Regions from separate parts of the Homo sapiens genome. Here region 2 is linked to region 1. Evidence: fine-mapped expression QTL. Tissue or cell type: sun-exposed skin. Region 1 holds a variant in brackets; the other region holds the start of a gene. All regions are shown on one strand. Distances are from middle to middle.

Region 1 (2,840 bases):
AATAAACATCATAAAACAGAATAAGGAAGCATTATATCATAAATCTTACATATATTATCCACAAAGGAGATGCTCTTGAATAGTTTTGCTCAAAGTGTGGCCTGAAGATGAGCAGAATTGGCCTCATCTGGTCATTTGTTAGAAGTGTAGAATCTCTCACTAGCAAGAGACTAAAAAATAATTAAAAAAATAAGTATAGAGGCCGGGCATGGTGGCTCACGCCTGTAATCCCAGCACTTTGGGAGGCAGAGGTGGGTGGATCACGAGGTCAGGAGTTCCAGACCAGCCTGACCAACATGGTGAAACCCTGTCCCTACTAAAAATACAAAAATCAGCTGGGCGTGGTGGCACACACCTGTAATCCCAGCTACTCAGGAGGCTGAGGCAGGAGCATTGCTTGAACCCGGGAGGTGGAGGTTGCAGTAAGCTGAGATCACACCACTGAACTCCAACCAAAAAAAAGGAAAAAGAATCTCAGGCCCCATTCCCCAGGCCTATTGAATCAGGTGATGTAGCTGCACATAAAAGATTCAGAACAGCCGGGTGTGGTGGCTCACGCCTGTAATCCCAGCACTTTGGGAGGCCGAGGCAGGTGAATCATGAGGTCAGGAGTTCAAGACCAGCCTGGCCAACATGGTGAAACCCTGTCTCTAGTAAAACTACAAAAATTAGCTGGGGGCGGTGTAAGGCGCCTGTAATCCCAGCTACTCAGGAGGCTGAGGCAGGAAAATAGCTTGAACCTGGCTGGCAGAGGTTGCAAAAAAAAAAAAGATTCATAAGGCACTGCTTCATAGGTATTTGATGAATATTCCCTCCTTCCCTTTTCCCCCAAAACACTACACAGATATACCCTCTTGACTTTTTCTTTTCTTCCCTTTTCTTTTTTTCTTTTCTTCCTTTTTTCCCTCCCTCCCTCCTTTCCTTCCTTCCTTCTTTCCTTCCTTTCTTCCTTTCTCCCTTCCTTCCTTCCCTCTCCCTCTCTCCCCTGCCCCTTCTCTCTTTCTTTCTTTTTCCCACACAGAGCTGGCTGTGCAGGAGACTGGAGTTTTACTATTATTACTCAAATTAGTCTCTTCTGACGTTTTTGAGACGGAGTATCACTCTGTCGCCCAAGCTGCAGTGCAGTGGCACAGTCTCTGCTCATTACAACCTCCGCCTCCTGGGTTTAAGCGATTCTCGTGCCTCAGCCTCCCAAGTAACTGGGACTACAGTCACACGCCACCACACCTGGCTAATTTTCGTATTTTTAGTAGAGATGGGTTTTTTGCCATGTTGGCCAGGCTGGTCTTAAACTCCTGGCCTCAAGTAATCCGCCGCTCCTTTGCCTCCTGAAGTGCTGTGATTACAGGCGTGAGCCACCGTGCCTGGCCTGAATGAAGCTTTTCTAGCATACATTTTCTCTATAAGGCACTTTACAGCCTTCTTGCT[A/C]TTAAGAACACCACACAACACTTTGGCATTAAGCTTAGGAGCCATTTTAAACGGTGAAATCACCAACAAACAGCCCCAAAACACAAAAAGTGCATCACTAGATAGAGCTCAAAAAAGACACTGGCTGGGCGCGGTGGCTCACGCCTGTAATCCCAGCACTTTGGGAGGCCAAGGTGGGCGGATCATGAGGTCAGGAGATTGAGACCATCCTGGCCAACATGGTAAAACCCCGTCTCTACTAAAAATACAAAAAATAGCTGGGGGTGGTGGCACATGCCTGTAATCCCAGCTACTCGGGAGGCTGAGGGAGGAGAATCACTTAAACCAGGGGGTCGGAGGTTGCAGTGAGCTGAGATCGCCACTGCACTCCAGTCTGGTGACACAGCAAGACTCCGTCTCAAAAAAAAAAAAAAAAAAGACACTAATATTTACACCATGAGAGCTGCAACAAGAAGGCAGAGCACTGCCTTGTTCCACCTCAGCTGGGAACGTGTATATCAGGTGACTCCAACTTGTCACCTCTCAATACAAGTCTGTGAATGACCTCAATAGCACTGTAAGTATTGATTTTGGGTTACAAACATTTAGTGACTAGGCAAATCCACAAATACAGAACTCACAAATGACAAAGACTGACTGTAAATGCTGTGGTAATTTGGAGCCTCGGGCTATTTTGACCTTGTGACACTGCCATCTCAACATGTGGTTTCTAGGTTGCCTCAACAGGGAAGAGATTGTTGGAGGCTCATTTGCTAGCTCTTAAATTCTTTGTTCAACCACAGTCCATTGAACAGAACTAATCACCTGAGCCCAGCTAACTGCAAGAGACCTGGGAAATGTGAAAAACACCTAGATATCTAGTAAGCAATAAATATTTCAGTTACCAAAGCCAAACCAAAAAAAGAGAAAAATAATTGTACTTTACAAAGAGAGGCATCTGGCTGGGCATGGTGGTTCACGCCTGTAATCCAAGCACTTGGGAAGCCGAAGTAAGTGAATTGCCTGAGTCCAGGAGTTTGAGACCAGCCTGGGCAACATGGGGAAACCCTGTCTCTACTAAAAACACAAAAAATCAGCTGGACGTGGTGGCACACACCTATAATCCCAGCTACTCAGGAGGCTGAAGCATGAGAATTGCTTGAACCCAGGAGGTGGAGGTTGCAGTGAGCTGAGATCACATCACTGCACTGCAGCCTGGGTATCAGAGTGAGACTCAGTTTCAAAAAAAAAAGGAGGCATCTGTTCTTTTTTGTTGTTTTTTTTTTTTTGAGATAGAGTTTCCCTCTTGTTGCCCAGGCTGGAGTGCAGTGGTGGGATCTTGGCTCAGTGCAACCTCTGCCTTCCGGTTTCAAGCGATTCTTCTGCCTCAGCCTCCCGAGTAGCTGGGACTACAGGCACATGCCACCATGCCC
Region 2 (2,500 bases), 100 kb after region 1:
ATGAAGGAGGCAGAAATTGCAGTGAGCCAAGATAGTGCCACTGCACTCCAGCCTGGGTAACAGAGTGAGACTCCATCTCAAAAAAAAAAAAAAAAATGCCGCGGTGGCTCACACCTGTAACCCCAGCACTTTGGGAGGCTGAGGTGGGCAGATCACTTGAGGTCAGGAGTTCAAGACCTGCCTGGCCAACATGGTGAAACCCCATCTCTACTAAAAATACAAAAATTAGCTGGGTGTGGTGGCACGTGCCTGTAATCCCAGCTACTTGGGAGGCTGAGGCAGGAAAATCGCTTGAACCCAGGAGGCAGGGGTTGCAGTGGTCAGATAGCCCCACTGAACTCCAGCCTGGGCAACAGAGAGAGATTCCATCTCAAAAAAACCAAAACCAAAAAACCAATAAAACAAAAAACAAAAATGACGAAAAAAGACTTCTAACCCTGACCAGACCAGATTATTTTGAATGAAATCTCTTTCTCTGTTCCATGAGCAGTTCTGTGTGTAGGGAGATCAGTCCCTGTGCATAGTGATTTAATCTGGTTTCTGTCTTCTCAGCTCAGAGTTTTTGATAGGGCTTTCACCTAGGCCACAGAGAAAGAACCAAATGATAGGGGATCCCGGAGGGGGAAGGAAAGACCCAAACATTTGAATGGCCTAATGAGCAAATCACATTTCTCTGGGTCTGTTTCCTTATCCATAAGTGAAAAAGTTTGGTGTATGTGATCTCTGGGGTACTGCTCAGCTCTTGACACTCTGTGGTTCTGGGTAGTAGTTGAAAGCAGCTCTCCTCTTCCTGAATTCTCCATCCTTGGACTGGACCTCTCGTCTGTTTATACCTTGCTGTGCAGTTTGTTTCTCCTGGGCGTCATTTCTTCTTCAATTTCCTCAAATCCTACTTGCTTCTTAGCTCCTTCATATCCTCTTTGTTTTCTTTGCTTCTGCAGAACCCCAGATTACACCCCTGGTCTCCAGTTCTCCATCTCCATGTCTGCCTGTTCCTTTCTGCATCACTGGCTCCTAACTCAAGCAATCTCCTTGGGTTTCTCTGAGGGGCCCCTGGGATCCCCTATCATTAGTCCCTCTCACAGAAGCATACCCTTCTCCAGAGCTAAAGGATCAGATATTCAGCGGCTCAGGTAACAAACCTGCTGTCAGGTTACACATATTGTTTCCTGAAAGACCACACTACAGTGTCAGTGGAGCCTCAGGTTGCCTGCAGTGCCCTGCCCTCACCTGGCTATCCCACACAGGTGAGAATAACCAGAACTCACCTCCGGTACCAGTGTTCACTTGGAAACATGGCTCTCAGCCTCTGGCCCCTGCTGCTGCTGCTGCTGCTGCTGCTGCTGCTGTCCTTTGCAGGTAAGAAGAACAGTGAGCAGAACTGGGGATGAGGAGGAGGGTGGCTGGAAAAAGACTTTAAGAATATGGAGGTGAACCTGTTAGATAGAAGGACAAAGGAGAGAGGCAGAGACTTGTGCAAAAGGGAAAAATGAGGGTTAAGAAAAGCAGGCCAAGACTTACTGTAGGCCAGTGAAAGGGGTTCAGCTCACCATCCCCTCACCTCATCTTTAGATCCAGGTAGGGAACTGTGCTCAGGGGCAGGGTTGAGTTTGGGCTCTGTGTTCCTCTCCTTCAGTGACCTCTGGTTTCTCTCCTTACAGTGACTCTGGCCCCTACTGGGCCTCATTCCCTGGACCCTGGTCTCTCCTTCCTGAAGTCATTGCTCTCCACTCTGGACCAGGCTCCCCAGGGCTCCCTGAGCCGCTCACGGTTCTTTACATTCCTGGCCAACATTTCTTCTTCCTTTGAGCCTGGGAGAATGGGGGAAGGACCAGTAGGAGAGCCCCCACCTCTCCAGCCGCCTGCTCTGCGGCTCCATGATTTTCTAGTGACACTGAGAGGTAGCCCCGACTGGGAGCCAATGCTAGGGCTGCTAGGGGATATGCTGGCACTGCTGGGACAGGAGCAGACTCCCCGAGATTTCCTGGTGCACCAGGCAGGGGTGCTGGGTGGACTTGTGGAGGTGCTGCTGGGAGCCTTAGTTCCTGGGGGCCCCCCTACCCCAACTCGGCCCCCATGCACCCGTGATGGGCCGTCTGACTGTGTCCTGGCTGCTGACTGGTTGCCTTCTCTGCTGCTGTTGTTAGAGGGCACACGCTGGCAAGCTCTGGTGCAGGTGCAGCCCAGTGTGGACCCCACCAATGCCACAGGCCTCGATGGGAGGGAGGCAGCTCCTCACTTTTTGCAGGGTCTGTTGGGTTTGCTTACCCCAACAGGGGAGCTAGGCTCCAAGGAGGCTCTTTGGGGCGGTCTGCTACGCACAGTGGGGGCCCCCCTCTATGCTGCCTTTCAGGAGGGGCTGCTCCGTGTCACTCACTCCCTGCAGGATGAGGTCTTCTCCATTTTGGGGCAGCCAGAGCCTGATACCAATGGGCAGTGCCAGGGAGGTGAGTGTGGCCAGGGCTGGGACTGGGATGTGGCAGGGCAAGGAAAGTGAAAT

Alleles and levels. Alleles are on the strand shown, and positions count from the first base shown. SD is a standard deviation of normalised expression in the study named.
With allele A in place of C in region 1, the expression in sun-exposed skin of the gene that starts at base 1,218 in region 2 is higher (moderate effect, 0.45 SD a copy in GTEx).

What was found. PIP is the estimated chance that this variant, and not a neighbour inherited with it, causes the effect.
Region 2: it holds the start of STRC, and the variant in region 1 is the best candidate, but not a certain one, in a credible set for the expression of STRC in sun-exposed skin (GTEx, PIP 0.58).

Annotation. Positions count from the first base shown.
Region 1 is chr15:43,721,471-43,724,310 of GRCh38, reverse strand. No RefSeq gene overlaps it. Among named protein-coding and RNA genes, the nearest start is that of PDIA3, 24 kb to the left of the region's middle. The variant A/C (reference allele first, on the strand shown) is at 1,429.
Region 2 is chr15:43,617,518-43,620,017 of GRCh38, reverse strand. It overlaps STRC (stereocilin), which reads left to right and starts at 1,218. Exons shown (of 29, transcript NM_153700.2): 1 at 1,218-1,359; 2 at 1,662-2,447. The coding sequence starts at 1,296.